Regions from separate parts of the Homo sapiens genome. Here all the other regions are linked to region 3. Evidence: fine-mapped expression QTL. A gene starts in region 3. Each other region holds a variant in brackets. All regions are shown on one strand. Distances are from middle to middle. Region 1 has its middle 56 kb from the start of DYNC1I2. Region 2 has its middle 46 kb from the start of CYBRD1. Region 3 holds the start of CYBRD1 (cytochrome b reductase 1).

The links.
Region 1: its variant is fine-mapped to the expression of CYBRD1 in subcutaneous fat (GTEx, PIP 0.98).
Region 2: its variant is fine-mapped to the expression of CYBRD1 in subcutaneous fat (TwinsUK, PIP 0.95).

What each region holds. Positions count from the first base shown.
Region 1 is chr2:171,625,900-171,636,710 of GRCh38, forward strand. No RefSeq gene overlaps it. Among named protein-coding and RNA genes, the nearest start is that of DYNC1I2, 56 kb to the right of the region's middle. The variant G/A (reference allele first, on the strand shown) is at 5,142.
Region 2 is chr2:171,563,559-171,574,369 of GRCh38, forward strand. No RefSeq gene overlaps it. Among named protein-coding and RNA genes, the nearest start is that of CYBRD1, 46 kb to the left of the region's middle. RefSeq lists a silencer at 4,349-4,520. The variant G/GA (reference allele first, on the strand shown) is at 5,301.
Region 3 is chr2:171,516,643-171,525,951 of GRCh38, forward strand. CYBRD1 (cytochrome b reductase 1) reads left to right here and starts at 5,832. Exons shown (of 4, transcript NM_024843.4): 1 at 5,832-6,096. The coding sequence starts at 5,904. It also overlaps the pseudogene RPS15P4. RefSeq lists an enhancer at 5,921-6,030 and silencers at 6,141-6,250, 6,401-6,470.

The DNA.
Region 1 (10,811 bases), 110 kb after region 3:
ATCATAGCTCACCGTAGCCTCGAACTCCTGGGCTTAGGCAGTCCTCTTGCCTCAGCATCCCAAGTAGCTGGGACTGCAGGTACATGCCACTGCATCTGGCTAATTTTTAAATTTTTTGTAGAGATGCCACTGCACCCAGCCAATAGCTGCAATTTTTAAAGCATGCTATGTAATTTTAGGCCAAAACAAGTGTAACTACTGGTACCAGACTGCCCATACCATAACCTGAACTTCTTGCCCTGAGGTAGAGGCAGAAAAAGCAGTTCTCTGCAGACCTGTTTATCCAAATCTCCCATCCAGACACTGAGACCAAAGCCCTCACTCTTAGAGGAAAGAGAGGGTTTGACTTTTTTCTTATTTTTTAGATACAGTGATGGCAGTGGCAGCCTGTCTGGAGCAGCTGCTGTGAAGATGCGGGCTGCAGTAGGGGAAGTACTGCCAGGGCTGCATGCTCCATGGAGCCAGCAGGAGCTGAAACAGGCAGGAGCCCTGCCCGCTTCCAAGTTGGCAGGGCAGGAAACCTGTGCTCCCTGAGTGTAGCTGCAGCTGCCCAGCTACAGCTCCAGACCCAGGCATCCCTGTGCTCTTGGGGGCCCAGGAAGTGCCCCCTGACCCCACAGGCTCAGAAGTGCCTGCTCTCACTCCCTGGCCTCTCCCTGCACTCAGTGCCCACTCTGTTGCAGAAGCAAAGTTGTGGCCAAAGCCAGATGCTGTCGTGACCCAGCCAGGTGTGTGTGCACTTGGGGCAGTGCTGACATGCCGCCCTGGCCCCCTTTGGACTTTGGTCACTGATGAGTGCAGGAGGGAGGTGGTGGGGGGTGCTGAGGGCAGCTCGGTGTGGGCCTGCAGGTACCCCTTATCATGAAAAGCCTGGGTGCCATGGATGGAATGTTGTTAGCAGGAGGTAGACAGGTTCCTGGGCAGAAAAGAGCAGGTCCCTATCCACCTTCAAGCCAGGGATGGCCTGAAGCCTGGGGGCCAGTCTGCCACTTCCAGGTGGAGTCCACACCTGGAATGAGAACTTATGGTGCTTTTTCCGAGCCCATCCATGACCACCCATGGGCCAATTAGCATGCATTTCCTCCCTTCTGAGCTCATAAAAACCCTGGACTCAGACAGATGTAAGGACGACCTGCCTGTGAATAGGAGCTACCCACTCTGGGTCTCCTGTCTCCTGACAGCTGGACACTCAATGGGACAACCTGCCTGCAGAAAGAAGCTACCCATTTTGGGTCTCCTGAGAGCTGTTCTGTCGCTCAATGAAACTCCTCTCTACTTTGCTCACCCTGCAGTGGTCTGTGTAGCTCATTCTTCTTGTACGTGGGACAAGAACTCAGGAACCGCCGAATGGCAGGACTGAAAGAGCTGTAACACCAACAGGGCTGAAACATGTGCCCCACCTCCCTGTTTGCCACACCGTGGGCAATGAGAAGGGGAAAAAAGCTGTGGCCCTTCAGGGATCCCAGACCTAGGGGATCCCCAAGCCAGAGCTGTGACACCCTCTTTGGGGCTGTGTGGTTCCTGGCATCTCCAAGCTTCTGGGTACCACCACATTCCCCTCATCCAGACGTGGATGCCTGCAGCAGAAGCTGTGTGTGGTGCATCTGTTCCAGCCACAGCTTCACATGGAGCTGGCACCTGTGCCAGAGCCTGGAGCTGCCTGCCCTGCCACAGCAGCCAGCATCCCTGGCTGTGCACAGTGACCTCACCTCGCACTCGCTCACCCACACACCCCTCGCCACTCCCTGCCTGGCTTGCCTTTGGCAGGTGTCAGATCCAGGCCGGTAGTGCAAGCCAAGCACAGCCTGCCAGGCAGAGTGGGCAGAATGAGCCCAGCAGGTGCAAGCAACACTCAGGCAGAATGTACTGCTAGCCACAGAGGTTTCTGGCTGGTGAAGCAACACCCCAAGGATTCCATGACAACAGGAATCTCACTCACTTGCCCAGGTTAGAGTGTAATGATGTGATCATAGCTCACCGTAACCTCAAATTCCTGGGCTCAAGCAATCCTCTGGCCTCAGCCTCCTGAGTAGTGAGGCTAATTTTTAATTTTTTTGCAGGAACGGGGTCTTACTCTGTTGCCCAGGCTGGCCTTGAACTCCTGGCCTCAAGCCCTCCTCCTGCCTCAGCCTCCCAAAGTGTTGGGATTACAGAAGTGAGGCACCATGCCCAACCATGAAAGAGAGGGTTTGAAAAACACAGCCCAAATAAAATCTAGACCTCAGCTGAAAAGGAAATGGAGATCCAGATTCAGGACTGAAACTTTTGTGGCCACTGAAACCTCTGGAGTTGGAAGAACACAGTGGGTTTGTGCTGGTACCAAGCATTGAATCAGAGAAGGAATGCCAGATAGTCGGCAGTCTGTCATTTTAAATCCTGCTGGTGACATTTTAAATCTGGTGACATACACCACATATGTCAACCTGAAGGAAAAAACTGATACAAAATTAATGGAAGTAGGAAGTGTATTTGGGCCAAGTTTAAGGAGTATAGCCCAGAAGCATTGATTCAAGTTGCCCTGAATATATTCTCTGATTAGCAGCAGTTACAAGTTATATCTTATTTATTCATTTATTTAAATTTAATTTAATTTGTTTTTTTTGAGACAGAGTCTCACTCAGTCACTGGGGCTGGAGTGCAATGGCGTGATCTCGGCCTACTGCAACCTCTGCCTCCTGGGTTCAAGTGATTCTCCTGCCTCAGCCTCCCAAGCAGCTGGCTGCCGTCATGCCCAGCTAATTTTTGTATTTTTGCAGAGACAGGGTTTCACCGTGTGGGCCAGGCTGGTCTCAAACTCCTGACCTCAGGTGATCCGCCTACCTTGGCCTCCCAAAGTGCTGGGATTACAGGTGTGAGTTACTGCACCCAGCCTTTATTTATTTTTGTTTGAGACAGAGTCTAACTCTGTCACCCAGGCTGGAGTGCAGTGGCACGATCTCAACTTACTGCAATCTCTGCTTCTGAAGTTCAAACGATTCTCCTGCCTCAGCCTCCCAAGTAGCTGGGATTAGAGGTGCATGCCACCATGCCTGGCTAATTTTTGTATTTTTAGTAGAAATGGAGTTTCACCATGTTGTCCAGGCTGGTCTGGAACTCCTGACCTCCAGTGACCCACCCACCTTGGCATCCCAAATTCCTTGGATTACAGACATGAGCCACTGCACCTGGCCACAAGTCAGTTTTTAAAGGAAAAAAAGAAGAGGCAGTTTCTAAGATGTTTACCAAGAATTTACATTAAGATAACAAAAGCTGTTGATTGGTCTGTTCCTTGCATTACATTGTTCCTTGTATCCCAAATTCTAGAAACATAAAGATAATGAGTGAGGCAGCTAGTGAGGAAACTACAGAGAGGAAAAGAAAGAATAAAATTCAAAGAATTGCCCCTGGGCATGTTGGGCAGCAGGATTATTACTGAAGTTCTATCCTCATGTCTCTCCGGTCCTGTTAAATGTTGCATACCACAGATAGCTCAAAGTGTTCTGACCTATTTTTCTTTTCTCAGTTTAAACATAGAAGTAGCCAAATTGAATAATGCTATACTTCCAGACTACATCCATTCTTCTTCTCCTCCATTTAGTCTCAGTCTGTCAGAATAAGAAATGAAGAATGACTGGTGTGGTGGCTCATGCCTATAATCCCAGCACTTTGGGGGACCAAGGCAGGAGGATCACTTGAGGCCATGAGTTCAAGGGCAGTCCGGGCAACACAGTGAGACCCCATCTCTACAGAAAAATTTAAAAATTAGCTGGTTGTGGTGGCGCATGAGGCTGAAGTGGGAGAATGGCTTCAGCCCAGGAGTTCCAGGCTGCAGTGAGCTATGATTGCATCACTGCACGGCAGCCTTGGTGACAGAGCAAGACCATGTCTTTAAAAAAAGAAAGGCGGTTGTGGGGGGAATACAGGGATGTAGACATCCATAGTAACTTTAGAAATTAAAAAGGTATTTTAAAATGAATATATTTCTAAATAATATATTTCTAAAACTAAAATCCCCTTTTTTATAATTTATTGTTTCATTCTCGGGACAAAACTCTCAACTTTACAGATGTGTTATTTTAGCATATTTACTTATTTACACCCAGATGTGAGAATTTAGCCCCTATACATCAAAAGCCATTTGAATAGCTGGATTGGTGTTTTCCTCTTTCTCTTTCTCTTAATTCTCCAAGACAGTCACATTTCTGAATGCAGATTCTGCAGGCCTCATTCTGGTAGCAGCCCTTCTGGAGCTGAGCTTCTTGGACATTTGAAAGTCAATCTCCAAGACAGTTTATATTCAGTTTCATATGAATATTGAGGAGTATCAGAATATGCCAACCTAAAATATGCCTATTTGGCATTTGGCTTATTTTGCGCTAAAGCCCGCTGAGAACCAGAAGACCAGGAAATTACATTTAGAAAGTCAATTTACATATAGAAATGGTGCTTCCCTCTGTACCAGGAGGAAGAGGATCCTTAACAACTCCTATCAATGGAGAAGGTACTTCCATCTGCATAACAAACCAATGACCCTTGTTTACCATACTTTTCCTGGTCACCTACCCCTAACTTTCCTCCCCCATGCAGAAGCCTAAAACTCTTCTTTCCTTGTTTAAGCCTAAGATGATAGAAAGCCAACTTCTAACCACCTAATGGAGTCAATCAATTCTGAATATGCCCATATGTAAGCACCAGGCATATGCTAATAAACATCTGTTTATTTTTTTTTCTTGTTAATCTGTCTTTAGCCAGCCTAATTTATATGGCACCAGCTGGAGAACTTAAGATGAGTGAAAGAGGAGTTTTTTTCCTCCTCTACAGTATCTATTTCTGCATTGGAAATGGACCCACATATACACTTAAACACAGTCTTCTAAACCACCCGGCATTCAAAGGTGACATTGTCACCTACCAACCCCCACATCCAGTAAACTCATTGCTTTAGATTGAATTTCAGATCATTTCATTGTGAAAGAAAAATAAAAAGTAGGAACTCCCAATTCATTATGCCAAAAGAGAAAAGTTAAGCTTGAAAACTGAGTCACAAAAAAACTGCCTTGCCTTTTGCTCCTAAACTGAAAGGTACAGATAAAAGACCACATGCCTCCACAGGGGACCTCCCACCCTGACCCTGAAAATGAAAATTAACAGCTTATCTCTAT[G/A]GGTGCAGGACAAGAGTGAAGCAGGTGATACAGAAGAAAAAACAAATTTTCTTCCTTTCCTTTGGTATGAGCAGCTTCTCCCTTGAATCCCTCCCGCCTCGTGTGATTGTACCCTGCTCTGCAAGTTTTTATGAGTTTATAGGTTCCTGTTTTCTGTAACTAGTGTCTGTAAGTCTGTTTTTCATCTGAGTAGCACCATGGAGGTCATGAGACATGCTTGAGCAATCTTAGATTGCAGCCATCTGGGCGCCATAGTGGAGGACATGAGATAAGATTGTGCAGGCATCTTGAGCAAGCCTAGATAACAGCCACCTGGCCCACATAGCAAGAGTCACATGAAAGCCTGAGTTATGAGCCTGTCTCTGTTTGATAAACTGCCTTTGTTCTGCTTCCGTAAACCCACTTTTGCGCCACTGCATTTCGAGCCACAGATGCATGTATAAAAGTCAAGCCCTGTCTTTGTTTGGGTCTCAGCCTTCTGGATGCAAATCCGCTGAGCTGGTGCACCTAAATAAAATCCTCCTGTCCCACCTATTGGTCTCTCCAGTTCCTTCATTCCCGCAACAAGAGGAGATTAGAAATCATCTCCCCTACTTTAGACAAAGGCATATTTGACTGCTTCATCTACTCTGTTTACTTTTTTTTTTGAGACAAAGTGTCGCTCTGTTGCCAAAGCCAGAGTGCAGTGGCACAATCTCAGCTCAATCTCAGCTCACTGCAACCTCCACCTCCCGGGTTCAAGTGATGCTCCTGCCTCAGTCTCCTGAGTAGCTGGAATTACAGGTACATGCCACCACACCTGGCTATTTTTTGTATTTTTAGTAGAAACAAGGTTTTGCCATGTTGGCCAGGCCGGTCTCAAACTCATGACCTCAGGTGATCCACCTGCCTCGGCCTCCCAAAGTGCTGGGATTACAGGCGTGAGCCACCATGCCCAGCCTATTTTTTCTTATGTAAAGTACAGATTTACTGATTGTGAAATGAATACATAATTGACTGATTCCTCTACCCTCTCCTTTTCATGTGCAATATGTGGATTCACAAGAATGTCACCATACCCTCCCTCTTTTTTTCTTTCCCCTTTCCCTTCATGTCCAGTTTTCCCCTTTAAATGTTGAAGCCTTCAAAATCCTCTTTGGGGCCGGCCGCAGTGCTCACATCTGTAATCCCAGCATTTTGGGAGGCCGAGGCAGGCAGCTCACCTGATGTCAGAAGTTGGAGACCACTCTGGCCAACATGGCAAAATACCGTCTCCACTAAAAAATACAAAAATTAGCTGGACATGGTGGTGCACACCTGTAATCCCAGCTACTTGGGAGGCTGAGGCAGGAGAATTGCTTGAACTGGCGAGGCAGATGTTGAACCCAAGAGGCGGAGGTTGAAGTGAGCTGAGGTTGCGCCATTAAACTCCAGCCTGGATGACAGAATGAGAATCAGAAGGAAGGAAGGAAGGAAGAAAGGAAGGAAGGAAGGAAGGTTGGTCTTCAGAAAAAGTATGGGCTGCAGATCCTACCGTGGCTTGTGTCTCTTTTTCCTGGGTGTGTCCTCAACTTCAGCAAAATAAACCTCTAAGCTGATTGAGACCTGTCTCAGATACTTTTTGGTTTATACCATCAATAAATAGTTATAAATATTTTCCCCATTAACATCTAGTTTTGGGTGTTGAGGCAAGTTTTCCAGTAAAATTAACACTGGAAGAAGTGTTAGAGTAAAATGTTATAATTCTTTAGATGATTCTATCTTGTTTTGTATCCAAACCTTGAATCTCAATATTATTAAAAGTGAATTTTCTGGCTGGGCATGGTAGCTCATGCCTATAATCCCAGCACTTTGGGAGGCCAAGGTGGGAAGATTGCTTAAAGCCAGGGGTTCAAGACCAACCTGGGCAACACAGCAAGACCACATCTCCAATAAAAATTAAAAATATTATCTGGGTGTGATGGTGCACACCTGTAGTCCTAGCTACTCAGGAGGCTGATGTGGGAGGATCTCTTGAGCCTAGGAGACTGAGGCTGCAATGAGCTGTGATTGCACCACTGCACTACATACAGCCCAGGTGACAGAGTGAGATTGTCTCAAAAAAAAGTGAATTTTCTTAATATCATGATAACAAAATAACAAATATGCTTTTCACTCCAGCAAACACCCAACACCCTGACCAATTTAATATAATTGGTAACCATAATGTCTGAAGAACTTCAGTGACTTTCCCTCTTCCTTACATCTCATTGTACATTTACCAAGCTCTCTTTGGGCCCTCAAAAATAAAATTCTTGAGATTCATTTCATCTGTGAGATCCTGTCACAGTTACATTAAATGACAAGAGATTCATTTGTTTGTTTTTGGAATCTGAATGGTCTCCAAATTTCTTTAGGGCTCATTCAAACTTGAAAAGTAGTCCTAGGCCACAAACATAGAACCCAGAAGAAATCTGGGACTGAAAAGGGCAAATTGCATCATGACCTCAGATTTTTCCAAATTGAAATTATTTGCATGAATATTATCTGATACACAAACTTCACATCCATTCAATTCTTATTCCCTGACTACCCAGCCTCACCCCAGCTGTTCACCATAGTCTGCACCTGCAGGCCCAACACCCTTTAAGGACCCCTCAGATTTCAGAATAAGGAATTGCATATGGTGTGACTCAAGGAAATCTCCACTAGCAAGTAAAGTTTATAAGTGATTCCTTCCTTCCTTCCTTCCTTTTCTTTGCCTTTTCCTCTCTTCCACCCTTCTCCCTCCTCTTCCTTCCTCTCTCTCTTTCTCTTTCTTTCCCCCTTCCTCCTTCCCTCTCCCTCTCTGTCCCCTTTGTCCTTTCCCTCCTGTCTCCTTTTGGAATGATTTTAGCATTCTAGGTCTCCATGAGAACTTCAGGCATTGGCTTCCTTAATCTGAAATCTTGCCAACATGTACTAATTTCTGGATTTCCAATAACCTAGTCTCCCCAAATTAGGAAACTGACTCCAGTCAAAATCAATAAATACCATTGACTTGATCTGGTTTTGATTTGGTTCTTGTCACTTATAATCCTGCATTTCTTAACTAATACAGGAACACTCTCTCATGTTTCTTGCTAATCACCATTTTTCCAAGGCTTGGTTCAGTTTGTAATATCCCTCAAATCATTTTAGCACCTCCTGATTTACAACCTGGGTTCCTAAATACTTTTGAATTTTTTAAGTCACCCATAAAAGAAGCCACCACTCAGCTGAGTACAGTGGTGTGCACCTGTAGTCCCTCCCAGCTACTTGGAAGGCTAAGGCAGGAGGACCCCTTGAGGCCAAAAGTTTGAGGCTACAGTTCTTATGATCATATCTTTGAATAGCCATTGCATTTCTGTATTCCAGCCTAGGCAAGATAGCAAAATCTTCTCTAAAATAAAAAAAAAGAATCCCCTCACTTCTAATGAATGGGCAGTGAGTAGGTCATGCATAGGATTGTGCTCTTCTTTCTTACCACTGCTTATTGGGCCAGAAACCTGATCTGACAGAGGCCAGTCAACTAGTCAATCCACAGATATTAATTAGGATATTGCACTGAGACCATGGTGCAGTTGGAACCAAGAGCAAGATGAAAAAGCAGAGGATAAGTAGTTAGCAGAAAAAGAATGCAGCAGAGGTGGAGAAAAAAATAGTTTGTTCCAAGAACTTTATACTTATTATTTCTCTCTTGGAGATGTCAATGCTATGGATATACCTCAACAGAAACAACAAACTTTCAAAGGCACTGTAGATTTCCATAAACAGTGTATAGCAATTTATCCTATGATTTACATAAGAAAATGTTCAAAGGTTTAGCTACAAGTTTTTTTTTGCCATGTGTTATCTATAATAGAAAAATATTAAATATGTTAAATCTAAGAAAAATTCCCTAAGTAAGTTATGCTGCATCCATCTAATGGAATTTTTTTTTTTTTTTTTTTTGAAGACACAGTCTTCCTCTGTCACTCAGGCTGGCGTGCAGTGGTGCAATCTCAGCTCACTGCAACCTCCACCTCCCAAGTTTAAGCAATTCTCATGTCTCAGCCTCTGGAGTAGCTGGAATTACAGGTACACACCACCCCGCCCAGCTAATTTTTTGTATTTTTAGTAGAGATGGCATTTCGCTATGTTGGCCAGGCTGGTCTCAAACTCCTGGCTTCAAGTGATCCGCCTGCCTCAGCCCTCCCAAAGTTCTAGGATTGCATGCATGAGCCACCATGTCTAGCCCCATCTAATGGAATATTAAACTCGCATTTTAAAAATATTCTATATAGGCCAGGCATGGTGGCCTATACCTGTAATTCCCGCAGTTTGGGAAGCTGAGGCAGGTGGATCACCTGAGGTCAGGAGTTTGAGACTAACCTGACCACCAAGGTAAAACCTCATCTCTACTAAAAATACAAAATTAGCTAGGCGTGGTGGTGCATGCCTGTAATCCCAGCTACTTGTGAGGCTGAGGAAGGACAATCACTTGAACCTAGGGGGCGGAGCTTGCAGTGAGCCGAGATCATGCTATTGCACTCCAGCCTGGTCAACAAGAGCAAAACTCTGTCTCAAAAAAAATATTCCATATATATATAATTGTTATCATGGAGTGATCTCTAAGCTACACTATTAACTAAAAAGAGCTTGCTATAAGCAATATGCATATAAAATACCATTTAAATAAAAAAAGTGTTTGTGTTTGTAGAGAAAGACTTCAAAGCATTGTTACTAAAACACACTTATTGCTTCTGGGCCAAAAGAAATGTGAATAAATAACTTTTACTTTTTTATTCACGTTTTTCTTAGTTGCTTGAATTATCTACATGATTATGTGTGAACTTTATAAGGATTTTAAAAACCACAATAATATGTTCTGTTATTTAGTTTTTAAAAATCTCTGGATTTTAGATCATTATTATTCTGTGGTCCTTTTTTTTTTTTTTTTTTTGAGACAGAGTCTCACTTTGTCGCCAAGCTACAGTGCAGTGGCACAATCTCCGTTCACTGCAAACTCTGCCTCCCTGGTTCAAGCAATTCTCCTGCCTCAGCCTCCCGAGTAGCTGGGATTACAGGCACACACCACCACACCCAGCTAATTTTTGTATTTTTAGTAGAGACAGGGTTTCACCGTGTTGGCCAGGATAGTCTTAATCTCCTGACCTCGTGATCTGCCCACCTCAGCCTCCCAGTGTTGTTTGTTTTTTATTATATAAATTTAAGTGTATAATATGATATTTTGATATACACATACATAGTAAAATAATTACTACAAGTAAGCAATTTAACATATCCATCATCTCATTTAGTTACTTTTGTGGTTGGGGGAGGATCACCTAAATCTACTGTCTTCGAAAAATGTTAGTATACTATATCAATATGGTTTGGCTCTGTATTCCCACCAAAATCTCATCTCCAATTGTAATTGCCATAATCCCTACATGTCAAGGGAGGGACCTCGTGGGAGGTGATTGGGTCATGGGGGCGGTTTCCCCCATGCTGTTCTTGTGATAATGAGTTCTCACGTGATCTGATGGTTTTATAAGGGGCTCTTCCCCCTTCGCTCTCTTCCTCTCCTCCATCGCCAAGTAAGACATGCCTGCTTCCCCTTCTGCCATGATTGTAAGTTTCCTGAGGCCTCTCCAGCCATGCAGAACTGTAAGTCAATTAAAACTCTTTCCTTTATAAATGACACAGTCT
Region 2 (10,811 bases), 48 kb after region 3:
AAGGGTGTGGAAAAGTGTGGAGTGATGATTAGGATTCAGGCCTCTCCTTGCCTAGCCTTCCTCCATTCTCTCTCTCTCAACCTCTCACTCTCTCTCTCTCTCTCTCTGTCTCTGTCTCATTTAACAGAGCACTGGATTGCGAATGGAGTGCAAGTAGAGACTGAGAATCACCACTGTAGTGATTGTATCTGTGTGGCAAATCATCTTAAAGATTTCTTGTATTTGGAAACAATGTCTAATAAAGAATGGCCAAATACAAAGTTACACTATACAAAAACTATGTCATCAAAAATTATATTGTTCAAGTGAATAATTAGCAATATGAAAATATGTTCATAAAATATTAAGTGAAAGAAATTGAATATAAAAGAGTTTGTAAATGTGAATGTGCATACACTTTCAAATAACTGGAGGCATAATATACCAAATAGTTAATTAGTTAATAATGGTTATCTTTGGCCTGGTGTGGTGGCTCATGCCTGTCATCCCAGCACTTTGGGAGGCCACGGTGGGTGGATCACCTAAGGTCAGAGACCAGCCTGGCCAACATGGTGAAACCCTGTCTCTACTAAAAGTACAAAGGAAAAAAAAAAAGACAGATGTGGTGGTGCGGGCCTGTAATCCCAGCTACTTGGGAGGCTGAGGCAGGAGAATCACTTGAACCTGGGAGGCAGAGCTTGCAGTGAGCCGAGATCGCACCACTGCACTCCACCCTGGGTGACAGAGCAAGACTCTGTCTCAAAAAATAAAGTAAAATAAAATAAAATAATGTTAAAAAATGGTTATCTTTGAGACATGGTAGGATAATGGGCATTTTTCATTTTCTTCTTTTTGTTTTCTCTGTATTTTCTATAATTAAGTATCACTTTTGTACTAAGAAAAACATGTATTATCGGAATCCCGTCTGCCTCATTGACATCATCCAAATGTTTGCTTAGTCTAATTTATCAAGAAATTGAAGATAATATATTTATAATTGAAATAAATGTTTTCCTAACACCAGGAAAGAGGAACTAAAGCATTTGCCAAGATCCTAACTTGGTCAGATACCGGAATGGCCTGAGGGACTATTTGCTTTGCAGCATTGTTAATCTCCAGATCGCAGAGACATAAACATTTACAAGTCTTCCGAAGGTCATGCAATCACTGGAAGCTGGGCAGTATATACTTGTAAGAACTGGACAAAACAGAAAAATCTGGATTCTTGTAGGAACTCTATCATGGTCCACGGGTGTAATCTTGGGCAAGCCGCTTAATCTCTCCATCTGCTACAAAAAACAGGTCCTTTTATATTCACTCACCAATTAGTGATTGAGGATGTCTTGTGTGCACTGCTCCTAGGCACTGCCTGGGGCTCATGCTGAAAGCTATGAATCTGTTATTTTATAGACTATTGCAGCCAGTTTAATTCATACACCATTTCCATCCTTCAGCACAGAATTACCTACAATTCTCATGGCTTACAACTGGAATAAACCTTTGTAATCTAGGTATCGAGGGCTCCAAAAAAGAGAGACAGTTAGTAGGCTTTGTAAAAGTGACAAAAGAGGCAAAAATGGGACCAGACACAGTGGCTCACAGATATAATCCCAGCACTTTGGGAGGCTGAGGCGGGCCGACCACTTGAGGCCAGGAGTTCAAGACCAGCCTGGCCAACATAACAAAACCCAGTCTCTATTAAAAATACAAAAAATTAGCCAGGTGTGGTGGCACACACCTTTAATTTCACCTACTCCGTAAGCTGAGGCAGGAGAATCGCTTAAACCCGGGAGGCAGGAAGCGAAGGTTGCTGTGAGCTGATATTGTGCCACTGCACTTAAGCCTGGGCAACAGAGTGAAACTCTATGTCAAAAAAAAAAAAAAAAAAAGAAAAGAAAAAAAGGCAAAATAGGGTAAGGAATAGACTGAGTAAAGAGTTAGAGATGGGTCAGAACAGAATCCACTTGGCCCAGATTAGCTTGGAGGGCAGGGAGGAGGGATGAAACCCTGAGCAAAAAGCAATAAGAGAAATTACAGATCACGGTGGTAAATTCCCAAACATGGTGTTTTAAATACCTTATTTACCACAATGTACAATTCATTATTCTTTTCTAGCAACAATAATCCGTACTAGTGTTTATGTGTTTGCTATTATTGCAAGAGAAGGAGAGGTTGAGCAAAACACCTTTGAAGATCTAATACTGTACACAGTGGTTAAGGTCACAGGTTTTAAAAGATATGGGGACTATGGGCCAAAAGCCATAGAGACTGGTTTTTGTTCCATGAAAAAGATGACATAAACTAAACATGATCATAAAAAACACCATAGTGTCCGGAAAAGTTATTTGTTTGCTTCTCAGAAGATATTTCCATACATTGCTAAGCACAATGGTTTGCTCTATTTTGTTTTTGATATATCATAATTTGATTGTCTTTTGTGATCGCACAAAAATTTTGTGCAGTTAATTGTTTTTCCTCATTGTACAACAAAGTGCTCATTAAGAAAATTCAAAGGGCTGTTAGTAACAAACAATTAGAAAGCAAACTATTTGGAAACATGCTCCCATGAGGATATGCACTCACATTTGAACACATATACACACAGATACAGATAAATGCCATCTAACCAAAAGAAATGTGAGGTATTCAATTAGCAAAACTGATCATTAACCAGAAATTTAACTATAAAGCCAAAAATACCTTTGAGCAAAAGTTGGTGAGCACATTTTTTCTTTGTGAGAGACCAAAGAGCTCCATATTATGCAATGTCAAAGAGCTCCCCTCAGCTCAGCTGTCTTAGCCAAACATAGGGCTAGCAAGGTAAAGGTACGTTGTATGTTAAGTTAGATAGAGGGTTGATAGGAATATAGAACCTAGTTATATGCTCTGAAATCAGGACAGAAGGTGTTTCCAGCCATTATGAGAGTTTGATCTGATAAGAGAACACTTATGAACAAAACAAACTCATATTTTATTATACAAAAAATAATAAAGCTTCTTGATTCATAACCCACATGCCTGATGGGCTCCCTTCCTTGTGTCAAGAAGCTAGGAAAGCTCAACTGAGACAATTAATAACATGTCATAGCTTTACATTGCCTTACAGATTGTACATTATATATAATGTATTTAAGTATGTAAAGTACAGTCACTTTATGGTCCCAAGCTTTATCCCTTACTAATTGTGAGAACTTCAGCAAGTTCTCTGAATTATAGCTTATGCATCTATAAAATGGAGCTAAGGATACCTTAATATTGGTGGTTTTAAAACAGGTCCTCAAATTCTTTGACACTCTTTCCCATCAAAAGATAGAACCCTATTCTCCTCTCCTTAAACATGGGCCAGGCTTAGTGACTCACTTGTAAAGAATCGAAGACAAGACTGGTGCAGTGGCTCGTGTCTGTAATCCCAGCGCTTTGGGAGGCCAAGTTTGAAGCCAGGAGTTCAAGACAAGCTTGGCCAACATAGCAAGACCCCATCTCTACTAATAAAATAAAAATTAACCAGGCATGGTGGCACACACCTGTAGTCCCAGCTACTCAGGAGGCTTAGGTGGGAAGATCGCTTGAGCCCAGGAATTCAAGACTGCACTGAGCTATGATCTGCCACTTGCACTCTAGCCTATGCAACAGAGCAAGACCCCATCTCTAAAACAAACAAACAAAACAGGAAGGCAGCAGACAATACTATGCGACTTCAGGGACTAGGTTTCCTAGCTCGCTGTCTCTCTCTCTCTCTCTCTCTCTCTCTCTCTCGTGTGCAATGCTTGCTCTGGGAACCCAACCACCTTGTCATTTGATGGGGAAATCAAACACTACATGTGTATTAATCCATTTTCACATGCTATAAATAAATATTTGAGAGTGGGTAATTTATAAAGGAAAGAGTTTTAATTGACTCACAATTCACACGACTGGGGAGGCCTCAGGAAACTTGCAATCATGGCAGAAGGGGAAGCAAACGCGTCCTTCCTCACATGGCAGCAGGAGAGAGAAGTGCCAAGCAAAGTGGAGAAAAGCCCCTTATAAAACCATCAGATCTCATGAGAACTCACTCACTATCATGAGAACAGCATGGGGGGAAACCAACCCCATGAGCCAATCACCTCCCTCCCTCAACATATGGGGATTACAGGTCCCTCCCTCCACACATAGGGATTACAATTTGACATGAGGTTTGGATGGGGACAAAGAGCCAAACCCGATCAACATGGAAAAGTCACGTGTTGATATTTGGACAACAGTTCTGCATGAGCTCCCAGCTAACAGCCAACATCAGCCAACCGGACACGTGAATGAGTGAGTTTTGAGTTTATTCTAGCCCCCAATCTTTGAACCACCCCAGCTGACACTGAGTTGAGCAGAGATAAACCGTCCCCTCTAAGTTCTTTCCAAATTTTTTTTTTTTGTTTTTGGAGACGAAGTCTTGCTCTGTCGCCCAAGCTGGAGTGCAGTGGCACAATCTCACCACACTGCAACCTCTGCCTCCTGGGTTCAATCTTCACCGGGAAGCCATTTCATTTGCCGTATGAAGAAGCTAGAAAGGAGAAACTTTTATTTTCAAACCCAGCAATTCCTGGCCCCTCTATATTTCACAGTTCTCTTTCACTTCTCTCTTTCTCTTGAAGTTTACTATACTCAGTGAGAAAAACCAGGCAGCTTCTTCAACACTTTTCCCAAAAATCTCCTTAGATAGACGGTTCAGTTAACTTGGTATATTTTCTATTCTCCATGTTACCACAGGTGACAGTGTTGCTAAACTTTTTGCTGCTATATGACAGCTCTCAGTAACATTTTCCTCGCTTTCCCATAAGCCCTAACCAATAACTTCTTCAAGAACCATGAGGTTTCCACTAACAGTCTCTTGAAGACTCTCAAATTCTGCCTGCCACCCAGTCCTGAAGCCATTGCCACACGTTAGCAGTTTTTGCTGTGCTACCAAACTCTGTTCCAGTTATCTATTGCTGCATAACAAACCACCCCAAAATTTAATAAATTAAAACAGTAACAACATCTATTTATTCATGAATCTACAATTTGAGGGCTGGGTGAGGTGGCTTTCGCCTATAATCCCAGCACTTTGGGAGGCTGAGGTGGGTGGATCACCTGAGATCAGGAGTTCGAGACCAGCCTGGCCAACATGGAGAAACCCTGTTCCTACTAACAAAAATTAGCCAGGTGTGGTGGTGTGCACCTGTAGTACCAGCTACTCGGGAGGCTGAGGTAGGAGAATCGCTTGAACCCGGGAGGTGGAGGTTGCAATGAGAGGAGGTAGCACCACTGCACTCCAGCCTAGGTGACAGAATGAGACCCTGTCTCGG[G/GA]AAAAAAAAAAATAAAGAAAAATATGGTTCAAAAATAAAGTGAGTTTATTTTTGGGCATGACTATAAGACTCTTTGCTGAGACCTCAGAAAGTCCATAAGGTGTTGTTTCATAGGCCCTTTCAAGCAGACAAAAGGCCTAGCAACTTTTTTGTTTGTTTGTTTGTTCCTTCTTTATTTGTTTTCAACACACCATTGCTGGCTTGAAAGGCCTACAGATCTCAAGGGAATTATTGGACCGCAGCTTTAGGAGAAGGGAGAGAAGGGCTAAAGGAGATTTATTGGTATGGGTTTTGCCTAATGGAGTTAGTTATAAATTGATTAATAAGAAGACTATATATACATATTTTAAAAGAATTAGAATTAGCTTGGAGTGAAAGGGACATTCAGGCCTTTGGATTCCAGGCTTCTAAGAGCAGGAAGCAATCTAAAAAGACTGTCACTCAGCTGCAAACATGGGCTACTTTTTTTTTTTCTTTTTTTTGTTTTTTTGAGATGGAGTTTCGCTCTTGTTGCCCAGGCTGGAGTGGCATGGTGTGATCTCGGCACACCTGCAACCTCCACCTCCCAGGTTCAAGCGAGATTCTCCTACCTCAGCCTCCCGAGTAGCTGGGACTACAGGTACGCGCCACCACACCTGGCTAATTTTGTATTTTTAGCAGAGACAGGGTTTCTCCATGTTGGTTATGCTGGTCTGGAACTCCAGACCCCAGGTGATCTGCCCACCTAGGCCTCCCAAAGTGCTGGGATTACAGATGTGAGCCATTGCACCCAGCCCAACATGGGCTACTTTTAATGGAAAAGAAAGAATGGCTCAGAAGGTGGGACCGAGAGTGCAGTGGGTGGAGCCAAAAGCAAGGTGGACAACTTCCAGGTGTAGGACCAAGCCCTATCAAGGAACTGGCAACATACGCTCAGCTGGATTTCAGAATCGCTGTGCGCCAGTGGCTGCTGTGTGCCTCCCATTTCCCCCCTTTTTGAACAGAAGCGTCTGCAGCGATTATCCTGTGCTTGCTCCACTATTGTACAATATATTGGGTGCAGTGAGCAGAGAGGCAGCTTGTCCTTTGATTCCCAAGTCTTCAGGTGGAGAGGAACTGCACTGCAGGGGCTCTACTCCAGGAACAGCACCCAAGGAGCCTCAGCCACTCCTGCACCTGATTTATATGTCAAGATCATGGACCTTGAGCCCCAGCCTGATGCTACAGGAGATACAATGTTTAAGGGGTTTAGGGCAGGGGAGTGAGTCTACTTTGCATGTAGGGGAAAATGTAGGTAATGTATGTCCAACGGGCAAATTGTGATGATTTTAAAATATGTCCACAAATTCTATGATATTCTTCTCAGCAGAAGGTAGAGCCTAATTCCCCTTCCCTTGAATCGTGGCTGGCCTCAGCAACTAACTTTTAACCCATAAAATATGGCAGAAGTGAATCTGTAAGATTTCTCCGAGGAGGTCACCAAAGGGGACACAGCTTTTGCCTTCTTCTCTTCTCTCTGGGGATGTTTACCTTCGGAACCCAGCCAGCACTGTGTGAAAAAGCCAAGGAGCCCCATGGAAAGGTCAAGTGGAGGGGCTGTGGCCATAGGCCCTGCTGAGCTCCCAGCACCAACTAGCTGACCTGTGAGATTTCAGATGATTCCAGCCACCAGCCTCAAATCACCCCTGCTGATGCCAAGAGAAGCAAAGACAAACTGTCCTTCTCAAGCCCTGCCCAAATTACAAATTAATGAGCAAAATAAATGCAGTCATTATGTTAAGGAACAAAGTTTAGAGTGATTTGTTATGCAGCAACAGGTAACCAGATATTGATATGCAAATGCCTACTCAGAATATCCACATTATCGGTCAGGTACAGTGGCTGATACCTATAATCCCAGCACTTCAGGAAACTGAGATGGGATCGTTTGAGACCAAGACCAGCCTCAGCAACACAGTGAGATCCCATCTCTATAAAAATTAAAAAATTAGCAGGGTGCAGTGGCACATACCTGTGGTTCCAGCCACTTGGGAGGTTGAGGTGGGAGGATTGCTGAGCCGAGGTGGTTGAGGTTGCAGTGAGCCATGATCATGCTACTGCACTCCAGCCTAGGTAACAGAGCAAGACCCTGTCTCCAAAGAAAGAAAGAAAAAAAATCCACATATTGAAATACAATCTTGCAGCAGTTGCAACATTTTATACATTCTGAATTACAATGGCTTCATGGTCCCCAGCTTTATCACTTACTAATTGTGGGACCTTCAGCAAGTCAGTCTCCTGAGCTTTAGTTTCTGTAGCTGTAAAGTAAAGATTAGAATACCTGTCATTTTATTTTTCCAGCTTTATTGAGGCATAATTGACATATAAAACTATATATATATATATTCTTTTTCTCTTTCTTTCTCTCTCTCTTTCTTTCTTTCTTTTTTTTCTTTCTTTCTTCTTTCTTTTTTTTTGAAATAGGGTCTTGATCTGTTGCCCAGGGTGGAGTGAAGTGGCACAACCATAGCTCACTACAGCCTTGACTTCCTGGGTGCAAACAATCCTCCTGCCTCAGCCTCCCAAAGTGCTGGGGTTACAGATGTGTGCCACCATGCCTGGCCAAAATTATATATATTTAAGGAGTACAGTGTGATGACCAATATACTATACATTGTGAAATGATTACCACAATCAAGTTAGTTAACACATTCATCACCTACAAAGCCTACCACTTGTGTGTGTGTTTAGTGAGAACACGTAAGATCTACTGTCTTAGCAAGTTTTAAGTACACAATACCATATCATTAACTAGAGTTATAGGACTTTCTCCTTAGTTCAGCTGAAAGCCTAGTTCTTGTCACATGGCCATGAGAGATTAGGTTCACAGACAATTTGGAGGATGAGAAAAATGGAATTTATTAGGCAAAAAGGAAAAAAAAAAAGGGAAACGGACTCTCGGCAGAGTGAGAGTCCTGCTAGCTGGTTTTCCAGAATCACAGATTGAATTCCAGGTTCCACCCTGGAACCGGAGAGGCCAGCTCCTCTCTGCCTGCAAATGGGGCGAAATTCCGGAGGCTCCACCCCAGTGCGCACTCCTTGGCTGTCTCAGTCACCATGTTGTATATCAGTACTTGTCTTATTTTAGAAAATCAACTGTGAAAGCCATGTAGCAAGAAGAAAAATGGTAATATATCGTAGGCTATTGTTCTGTGAAATGGCCATATATGCAAAGCTGCTCCCAAATGCTGAAGAGCCAAGAAACCAAAGAAGGTGGCCAACAAATCCAGTGTGTCAGTAAAGGGTATTTTATTGGGGAACTTACAGACAGAAGCGTGGTCTTGGGCAGCAGCAAGACAGGTAGATCTCTGCACTGTTATTGAACAGGCAAGAAGGCTGTGCGTCATGTCCTATAATTTGTGTGATAACATCAAAGTTGACATGTTCTTAGACTAAGGACAGCAAATAAAGTAGGAAGCAGGAGGCATTCACGGGACTGGAGCTAATCAGAAATCAACCGGACAGGTTAGCATCTAAGAGGGATCCACTTTTGTCTCCATAGTTATAACGCTAAAATCAAATGATTACAACTTTAAGTGTGTATAGAAGAGAAGTAGAGGGATTAGAGGAGTGGGTGGGGATGATTTTTTCTTCCATTACCCAAATTTTCTATAATATTTTTACTTTAGTAATCCAAAGAAATGCATATATTTTAAAATTTTTTTATTGTGCATTTCCAGTCCATACCCAGTTAGTTCTTTTCACTGACCTCCCTTCCTGTTAAATCGGGTGAAGTGGCTTGGAAGAGGAGCAGGGATGAAGCAGTATCCTATTTCTTGGAGCTTAGGGATCAACAGAGAATTAACTCTAGGACCCAGATTGCCTGCCTTCCCAACCTATGCCCAATTCCTTGCCCTGTAACCCTCCAATACTAGTTAGTTCTCACCTATATAAGCTGAGTATTGGATCCAGTGCCACATTAAATGCCCATTATTTGTGTAAGCAGAAGTTGCAGCTTTCTGAGCTTAGAGGCGATGTCATCCAGTGGTTGGAGGAGTTGGTCAAAATGCATGGGTTGGACACCTACCTCCACCATGTATTGCCTGGGGGCTTGGCAGATGTAATTAAGGACCTCAAGGTGAGATCATTCTGGATCAGGTGGGCCCTAAATCCAATGACAAGTGTCCTTCTAAGACAGGAAGACACAACAGAGAGCAGGAGGCCATGTGAAGACAGAAACAGAGATTCACAAGCCAAGGAATGCCTTGGGCCACCAGAAGCTGGAAGAAGGAAGGAACACATTCTCTCTTAGAGCCCCAGAGAGAGCCCAGCCCAGCCCACCTCTTGATTTCAGAGTTCTGGCCTCCAGAACTCTGAGAGAATAAATTTTCGTTTTATTAAGTCACCCAGTTTGTGGTTGTTTGCTACGACAATTCTGGGAAATTAATATGATGGATGGGTCTCACAATCCTAATACTGAAAGAAAAAAATCCAAGTTACAGAAAACACGGATACCATCTCAACAGCGTTTCAGAAACGTGAAACCCGTACATTGTACCGTTTAGGAACACATATGTATCGGCAAAAGCGTAATGAAACAAATGGGAATGATGAACACCAAATTTAGAGAAGTGGAAACTGTAAAGAGAAGGAAGGGAATACAGCTGAGGGGGCACAAAGGCTTCACCTGTTTGGATGGTAATGCGTTTCCCAAGCTGAGTGGCAGAGTCAAGTAGAATCAGTATCATAGGTTTACACCTTTGTGTAGGACTTAACTATTTCATTACAATAAAATTTAAAAGGGAAGAAATGAAAAAGGACAAAAAGGAAGGTTAATAGCACATTGAAGATGGGGGAGCTTCTTTCTTGGATAAACATACAACCATTCAAGGTCAAAGCGGGATGATTTGGTGCATATGTATCTCCTGCTACTTAATAACCAGGTGAAATTCAGTTTGTTAATATTCAGTGTTCTGATGTTGCTTATAAATAATTCCAACAGTAACCTTTTCATTGGAAAAACACCTGTACAGTGCCAACTCTGATTACTCCCTGTGGATATTGCTTAGCTAAAAATTAATATATCATACTTTCTAGAATGACAGACTGTGGGCTGGAATAAGAGAAAACAGTAATTTATAAGATGGAGTAATTATTGGAGGATTCAGGTACCATTTACTGACTTTTTTTCTTTATCCTGAAGCCAACAAAATTATCGAGTCCACATTCTCAGTCTTTTATTAGCCTTTATCTTAGGTTGTCTATCAAAAACAATATTTCTGTGGATTAATAAACACCACAAACACATAATAAACTGCACAGGCCCCTGGTGTTCCTAGGCAATACGTGAGCTAAGCTGAAGACCATCAAAGTGAGCTGGCCAGCGCTTGCTACCTCGGCGTGGCTGAGGCCTCCTCGCTGGCTGCACTACCGATAATATGCACGAGGTGGCAGCAACGTCACGGCCGCCAGCCCGGGGCCTCCACGGGCGACTGAGGCTGCGCAGTTGACTTCCTCATCACCAACAGGGCAGTCTTGGTTTCAAAACCAGAT
Region 3 (9,309 bases):
GTATCTGGTCTTGCAAGAAATAGCTGGTTTGCACAAAGGATTTAATTGAAGTGAGTTTAATAAATGGACTATTAACAGAGGTGCAACAGCCTTAAGGGAACTCGGCAAAGAGTGGTGAAGAACCAGGGACAAGCACAGCAGGAAGCCAATGCCACTCATAGACGCGTAGAAGCAAGTGGTGATGGTGTTACTGGACCCCTGTGAGAGCCACAGCTGTGGAGAAGGGAACACTTGAAAGTCCCGTGGCAAAGAGGAATGCAGCCACTGCAAAACCATGTCCCAACAAGGAGTCACAGTGGGATAAATAGGCTGACCTGGCTTCCTGCCTTCTAATCCCCAGTCAGCACCAGCCATCAGCCAAACCCAATTGGAAGCCAGAGGACAAGGAGAGTCAGATGACACAGTTGTAGGCGTCAGCCTCCCAGAGCACAAGCCAAGGCAAAGGGTGGAGAGTGGAGGGGAAAACAGAGAGGAACCAACACACAGTCAACAATCAGAAGTGAAAAATGTTCGGCTTATCCCACAAAGCAAACCACTGTGTGCAGCTTATTACGACTTTCTGTTAGCATACTGGACTTCTTTTTTTTTTTTTTTTTGGAGTCATGTGCGCCTTTATTAGCTGAGCCATTACTTGAGAGGGATGAAGCGGGAGGAGTGGGTGGCCCCGATGCCGGGCCGGCCGTGCTTTACGGGCTTGTAGGTGATGGAGAACTCGCCCAGGTAGTGGCCGATCATCTCGGGCTTGATCTCCACCTGGTTGAAGGTCTTGCCGTTGTAGACGCCCACCATGCTGCCCACCATCTCGGGTAGGATGATCATGTCCCGCAGGTGCGTCTTCACCACTTCCTGCTTCTCCATGGGCGGCGCCTCCTTCTTGGCCTTGCGCAGGCGCTTCAGCAGGGAGTGCTGCTTCCGCCGCAGGCCCCGGTTCAGCCGCCGCCGCTGGCGCGCACTGTACAGCTGCATCGGCTGCTCCAGCTGCTCGTAGGACATGTCCAGCAGCTGGTCCAGGTCCACGCCGCGGTAGGTGAACTTGCGGAAGGTCCGCTTCTTCTTCTGCTCTACTTCTGCCATCTTGCCGGATCCTCAGAAGAGCAGCATACTGGACTTCTGTATGCACCAGAAGAAATGCAACATTATTTTGTGGAAGTTCAAAAGACAGATGGCATCTAGGGCTCCCAGTGCCTCATCTCCTGATGGGTGGGATTTGGATTTTCTTTCCACAACCCTCACAACATGTCTTCTTACTCTACATTCTACATCTGTGTGAGGGACAAAAAATTCTGCATGAGCATGTTTCTAGCATCTAGGTGTTTTTTTTGTTTGTTTTTTTTTTTTTTTTTTTTTTTTTGAGACAGAGTCTCGCTCTGTCGCCCAGGCTGGAGTGCAGTGGCGTGATCTCGTCTCACTGCAAGCTCCGCCTCCCTGGTTCACGCCATTCTCCTGCCTCAGCCTCCCGAGTAGCTGGGACTACAGGTGCCTGCCACCACGTCTGGCCAATTTTTTGTATTTTTAGTAGAGACAGGGTTTCACCGTGTTAGCCAGGATGGTCTCGATCTCCTGACCTCAAGATCTGCCCGCCTTGGCCTCCCAAAGTGCTGGGATTACAGGCGTGAGCCACTGCGCCCGGCCAGCTTCTAGGTTTTTAGGAAGGCCATCTTCTTCAATGCTCTCCCCCACCTGCTACATCAGGAATCACCCAACAGCATTGCTGACAGGTTATTGAGTCTGATTAGGTACTTTGGTGACAAACTGCTTACAATCTCCAGAGGGAAACTTCTATCATTTAACAACTCTGTTTTAAAAAAGTTCACAGGCAGGGGTGGTGGCTCATGCCTATAATGCCAGCACTTTGGGCCGCCAAGGCAGGTGGATCTCCTGAGCTCAGGAGTTTGAGACCAGCCTGAGCAACATGATGAAACCCCCTTTCTACCAAACATACAAAAATTAGCCAGGCATGGTGACACACGCCTGTGGTCCCAGCTACTTGGGAGGCTGAGGCAGGAGGGTGAGTCCAGGAGGTGGAGGCTGCAGTGAGCCAAGATCATGCCACTGCACTCCAATCTGGGTGACAGAGTGGGACCCTGTCTCAAAAAGAAAAATAATTAATTAATTAATTAAAAGGTTAACAGTAAGCCACAACAATGTTTATTGAAAAATTTCCCCTTCTCAGTGACAGTTTTATTTAATATCAAAGTTAGGTTCTTAAAAGATAATTTAAAAGTTGAAATTCTCTCAGTTTTACATATAACTTCAAGATGATTCAACACCATTGGTACCATTTGGCCATGTTTTCATCCTCCCGAAATGTTTTGTTAAATGGGGTCTGGAATCCCAGAGATTCTCATCTGCTGCTGCTATGAAGCAAAATTAACTCAAGAGTGGAGTGAAGGTGTTAGGTCAATGGGGTGAAAACATTAATTGAGGACAAAGACTAGATACTTTTAGGGAGAGGGATAGGGATACAATGATGTCATTATAGAATTACAAGCTAAAGTTCGCAAAGGAAAAGAATCAGTGTAAGATGAAACAGGCAATGTTTGCAGCACTCAGGAACCAAAAAAAGGTCTGAAAAAATAAAACCGGAAGATTCAGGGATAGTTTCCTTTTATTCCTAGGGATCCGCTCTCACTCTTCTCTCTTCTGCTCTGTGCCCTAAGTTGACCTGGGATGGATACATGGACTGCCCTGTGGCTTCTGATTAGGTTCTGGTTAGCCCCTGGGACACCCTAGGCAGAAGATCAGAGGGGAGAAGAGTAAGGCTGGAATATTTATCTGCTTCCATCTTTCTCCCTATGAGGTCTCTGCAGGCTGGCTGCATCCCTGTACTCAAGGCCTCTATCGGACTTCCCCCTCCGCACAATTTTCTCTCTGGATTCCAGTAATTCTCTGCCCTTCAGACCTGGGGCACTGCCTAACCCTGAGGTTTCCTACACTGCCCACAACTTCATAAACAGTCTTGTTCATTATGAAATTACTCAATTCCAATATGCTGTTTGTTTTCTGCCAGGACCCTGATTAACACACTCAGTCTCATTAGCCTCCCAACACATGTTTATTGAGTAACTACCACATCCCAAGGAGGAATAAAATGATCAATTAGAGAATCAATGCCTTCAATAGGGCAGTCTGAGAGTGGAGACAGCCAGAGAAGCAGATCCTTATATTACATCCTGACAGGTGACACAAGGAGGCACTGGATGGGGAGGTCAGTGGGATATAAAAGTCTGGGCAGGGGCAGACTCAGGGAAGGTTTCTCAGTGGAGATGGGGGTCAGGGAAATTTAGAGGCAGTGGCGTGGGTAGGAAGTGGTCAGAAGCTGCCAGAGCAGTTTACAGCCAAGGACATCAGGGCCAGTCAGGTTGTGGTAAGAGACTGGCAGGGGGTGCTAGGCTGGACCAGATCAAAGAAAGCCTTGTGCTGGGGAAAGGTATCCTTCTCTTCCATTTGCTTACTCTCCCCACCAAGGGAAAAATAATGACACAGGTGAGGTCTACAGCCTTTTACTCTGAGCCCTTAATCCTGCCCTACTACCATGGCTTGCCACTCCTATTTCCTTAGCCTGCTTTGAAAATCATCCCCGTATACTTCCTGCACATTCTAAGGTCTTTCAAGACGGCAACAAGACAATATAGCAAAGTAGTCCTTGGAGATGAGCTACAGAAGAGGGCTAGAAGTGAACGTTCCCAAATGCATTCTGGAAGCCCTGGCAGTCAGAACCCTTTTTCTTATAATAGCATTAGATAATGCTGACATTGTTTTTGTCCAGTGGAGAAGGGTGAGGATAATGTTGGAAAGAGGGCAGGGAGCAAGCTTCACTTCATCAAGGAGGGGCTTTGGTTCAAATTGGTTTGGGTGGGCGGGCACTTTGAAAATCCATTTGTCACACTAAACGGCAAGTCCAGGTCCAGGAGGTTCCTGTCTTCCCTCTCTCAAGAGCAAACTGCAAGTAGTTTCATTGCAGGATAAGGCCAAGCCCACCGCTGCCCATGCTGTTTTTGTTTTGTTTCCAGACAGAGTCTAGCTGTCACCAGGCTGCAGTGCAGTGGTGCGATCATACCTCTCCTGAGCTCAAGTGATTCTCTTGCCTCCACCTCCCAAAGCCCTGGGATTACAGCTGTGAGACACCTCATGGGGACCCGGTTTACTGGGTTTTTTTTGTTTTTTGTTTTTTGTTTTTTTTTGAGACAGAGTCTCACTTTGTCACCCAAGCTGAAGTGCAGTGGTGCAACCTCAGCTCACTGCAGCCTCGACCTTCTGGGCTCAAGTGATCCTCCTTCCTCAGTCCCCCAAGTAGCTGGGGCTACAGGTGCATGCATTTGTATTTTCAGTAGAGACAGGGTTTCACCTTGTTGCCCAGGCTGTTCTCAAACTCCTGGACTCAAGTGATCTGCCCGCCTTAGCCTCCCAAAGTGCTAAGATTACAGGTGTGAGGCACTGCGCCTGGCCTTTACTGTTAACTTAAAACAAAAAATTATAAATTTGAAAAAAGAGGAGACTTTATTTCTTATAAAAGGTTATAGCCTGCAAGGAGGCCATTCCATAGGCTGATAAACATAGCCTCTGGCCTAAGACCAGAGACAGGCACTTGGAAGGCAGAGGGGTTGGGGTAGGAGCTTTATGCTGAACAGTTTGGCCAAACATACATACGTAACAGGTTACAGGAGGAGCTATGAATATTAATGGAGGTGGTCCTTACACATGCATATTGAACAAACATGCATGTAACATGTTCTCTTTGGGGTGGAGACTTAACATTTAATTGTATTACTTCAAATACATTTAAATGTATTACTTCAAACCTACACTTCAAAAGGTCTTTTCAGGACGTGAATGCATACAAGTGCACAATCCCTGTACACTGGCCAGAACCGGTCCATGGTCGGTCTTCTTATCATGAAAAAGTTCCTGAAATCAGCCCAGTGAAAGCTGTAGTTCTGGCTGGTGCAACAGGGGTTCAGCTGGTCAGCATCTGTGAACTGATTAAGTTGTAATTGTTTTAATATTGCTTATCTCAAGCCAGTGCTTGTTTAGCCTCTAGAGGAAAAGAAAACCTTTGTGGCAGTTAGACCATAGTTTATTTCTTAAGTGTAGGAGTGTGTGACTTAGGTCCTTTTTATAATTTGATGTCTTATTGCTACAAAGAGTCTGTTCTGTCCGCCTTATGATTTCTATTTTAAACATTAATGCTAGTCAGCTGTTGAGTCTAAATTCCAAAATGGAGGGGGTAGACTTCCCTTCCGGCTGTAGCTAGAAACTCAGCTTTAAGGTTTTTCTGGGGTCTGCTTGGCCAAGGAGGTCCATTCAGTCAGTGAGGGGCTTAGGATTTTATTTTTAGTTTACACCACCTTACAGGTTCCTCCTTAACACCCTTTGATGTCAGAGACAGCCAATTCTCCAGCACTGTGGCTAAGGAGGCTTCGTTAGTAGTTAAAAGCACACACATAACCCTACCCAACGGATCCCTCTCTTCTCTTAACCAAGAGGGCGCACCACTGCCCTACTCAACCTCCCCACAAATAAGGACGAGACACGGGAAGTGTTAAAAGCAAGTGGTGAGTATAAAATCCTCGGAATTTTCTCTTTGAGCAACTAACTAGGTCTGTTACTGAAGCCCTCTGCGAGCTTGGATGCTGGACGAGGGAGAGGGTGAGGCCACCAGGCAATGAGCGCCCTCGGCGGCCGCGTGATCCCGGGGGTGGGGCCCATTTCTGAGTTGGGGCCAGCTCCCCACCCCCAAGAGGCCCCACATTCCGGGCCAGCAGCCCAGAAAGTCCCTCCCCGCAGGCGGAGACAGCCCCAAGAAGTCGACGCCCCGGTCCCGCCGCCCGGCCACTACCCAGAGGGCTGCCGCCGCCTCTCCAAGTTCTTGTGGCCCCCGCGGTGCGGAGTATGGGGCGCTGATGGCCATGGAGGGCTACTGGCGCTTCCTGGCGCTGCTGGGGTCGGCACTGCTCGTCGGCTTCCTGTCGGTGATCTTCGCCCTCGTCTGGGTCCTCCACTACCGAGAGGGGCTTGGCTGGGATGGGAGCGCACTAGAGTTTAACTGGCACCCAGTGCTCATGGTCACCGGCTTCGTCTTCATCCAGGGCATCGGTACTGGCACCTCCTGGGGGGGTGCGGGGAGGAAAGCGGGGAGAACGGCGGGGGCAGAGGGTCCTCCGTGAAGCCCCTTCCAGCTGAGGAAGTGCTGGAGGATCGCGGGGCCCGGAGGAGTGCGGTGAGGAGCGCGCGGGAAGCCAAGTCGGCTGGGCGGGAGGGAGGCTGGCTGGCTCTGGGGCGGGACAGAGCTGCGGTTCAGGAGGATCGCCGCGAGCGCGGGGCCGGGGGTGCGCGGTGGAGACGCGCTGCTGGGGGCGGCGGAGCGGGGCCGGCCCCACTTGGTTAACTCTTTGCGGCGACTGGCTAGGACGCACTGGAGGGGCCTCCAAGACCCAGAAACTTGAGCCCGGGCGCGATGCCGGAGCGCCGCGCAGTCGGGCCGCTGCAGCCCACGCGCCCCGGAAAGTCGCCCCTGTGGACCGAGCCTGCGCGATCGGGGGCGCGGAAACACTTTCGCCTCAGCCTTTTGCTGAACTTGCTTCCAGGCTGCAGATGAGGAGGGGAAGGCAGCGGGGAAAAGATTGCCGGAGCGAGAATTTGCCCGTATTTGTAACATCCTCGGCCCTGGGTAAAGGGGCTGGCCAAGGGGGGCGAGTGAAGCATCCGCCCTGGGTTCCTCTCCTCCTAGAGTGTTAAACTCAGTCGAGTCCGGGAAGCTGCCAGGACTTCCAAGTGTGTTTCGCCGCCCTGCCCAGTCATTGGACGGTCTTGAGCCCGACTTGTTTATGTGGCAGAAGAGTGGCGAAAGTTCCCCCGCGGGGCTTCCTATTGGGCACTGGCCCAGCACTCCGGGTGGGAGATGCCCGGAGAGGGCCCGCGGCTGCCTGGCACCGAGGGATGCCTCTGCTCGGGATGCCCCCGGCGCAAGCTGCGTCCGTGTTTGGCCCGCGGCGAGCCAGCCCCGGGCCTGCATTCTCTGGGCTGAGGCTGGCGCGGGGGAGGGGCTCAGCAGTCGCTGGCAATGTTTGTTGTCATTGTGTAGTGCCTCTCAATGTCCTGACTGCTTCCTTCGGTTTGCCGTGTAGCTGGAGGAACCTCTAGCTTTTGGCGCAAACACCATTTATTTGTAACCACTTCCCCAAAGGCACGGCCTTCAGAAAGTAGTTAGAGAAAGGCAGCAAGGGGTGGAGTGGTGTTATGTCGCAGAAAATAATCGAGAGGAGTAGCAAGGGTTTGGAAAGATATGCCCACTGGCCGAAATCTCTAGCTTTGCCTGCGGGCAGGCTGCCTTTTCTTCACCAAATATTTAACTCCCCACAAACGAGTGTGCAAAAGAGTGCTGACCTCATTCCTAAAGAAAAGTGATTTTGGCTTTTGTTTTTGTTGGTTGTTTTAAACTTGTACTGCAGCTTTGGCAAGTGTGGCCAGCATTCTCCCACTCTGGAATGTAGTGGAAGGTGTTACTAACCCTCAGCATTCAAAGGCTTCCCTGGTGTGAGATCGGCATCAGGGTGTGAGATCGGCATCAGGGTGTGAGCACCACTGGGCACCTAAGGCATTTCGTTGCGTAACTCTCAGTTATTTTGCCACTATGCTTATAAGAAAAAAACATACTCAAGTTCCAAAGTAACTGTCAGAAGCACTCTTTCCTTCGTGGTGGAGCCCTTAAGTTTGGCCCCGAGCTGTCTACACCTTGTTTGCTCAAAGAGTAGAGCCAGTCTCCTCTTCTACCCAACTCTTCAGAGCAGCTTCTAATACCAAAAAGCTTTCTGGAGGTCTTGGAATATCTTCTCATAATTGAGGGTAAGGGAAACACAAGTGTTATTGCTCGTTGCCTGACTTGCCACAGAGGAGAAGACATCAGAATGGCTAATAGTGATTGCATGCTGTGTGTCCACTAAGTGCATTATGTCACATCACATGTATGTAAGAGTAAACTGAGGCAGAGAAGTTATGTAACTTACCCATGAAAGTTGTTTTAAGTCTTTTCAGTGACCTTATCGTCAAAGTTGGATTCTCTGCTTTTATGGCAATATGCTTATTTTCTGCCAAATCTTTTTAGACAGCGAAAACCTTCATCTAAAATATGTTTTGAAACTCTTCATTCATGTTAGAGTCCAATATACGGTTTTCTAAAAGGTTTTTAAATTTCTCTAAACTTTGTACTTCTCTTAATCTGTTCATACTTAACTCTTGGACAAAAATGTGTAAATTTTGGCAATTTTCATCTGCTGCTCTTACGAAAATCTTGTTTCTTTTTTTCTTTCTTTCAAGACGTAGTCTTGCTCTGTCGCCCAGGCTGGAGTGCAGTGGCGCAATCTTGGCTCACTGCAACCTCCACCTCCCAGGTTCAAGCAATTCTCCTGCCCCAGCCTCCCCAGTAGCTGGGATTACAGATGCCTACCACCACGCCCAGCTAATTTTTGTATTTTTAGTAGAGACGGGGTTTCACCATGTTGGCCAGGCTGGCCTCGAATTCCTGACCTCAAGTGATCCGCCTACCTCGGCCCCCCAGACTGCTGAGATTACAGACGTGAGCCACAGTACCCGGCCGATCTTGTTTTCTTTAGGTTCAATTACTGTATTTGTATCAATGGTCCAGAGTTTGTCCCGTCATTACTCATCCTGTTTCCTGTTTGGATCCTGGATGTGCAAATCACTTTAATCATAATGCATTTAATTGACATGAGCATAAATGTTTTCATACATGTAGGCACATGTATAGTTCTCCCCAGTTCTTCCATATCTTGGCCAACCCATCCACATTCCTCACCCTAAGTATTAGGAAGGCTCCAGTGGAAGGAGGGGGAGTAATAAATAAACTTTATAGGCTGCGAGGGACCCACATGTTACAGACTCGCCATGTTATAACAGACTTTTTTACCGTGTGTGATTGCTGCAAGGAGGAAAATTTTAGGCTATGAGATTTCAAATCTCTAACAAAGAACACGATGTATTGGAGTTCTTCTCTTCTGTAATACACAAATATTTGGAGATGAAGAAGAGAAGGCTAAAGTACAGTTATTACTCTAAGTATAAAATGCTTTAGAAATGCAATATACAAATAGTAAACAATATTTGAAACTAAGAACAAGTATGAGTCCTTTGAAACACCTTTAAGAAGTAGGCTCTGGGCCGGCACAGTCCAGCTACTTGGGAGGCTGAGGCAGGAGAATTGCTTGAACTCGGGAAACGGAGGTTGCGGTGAGTCGAGATCTTGCCATTGCACTTCAGCCTGGGCAACAAGAGCGAAACTCCCGTCTAAAA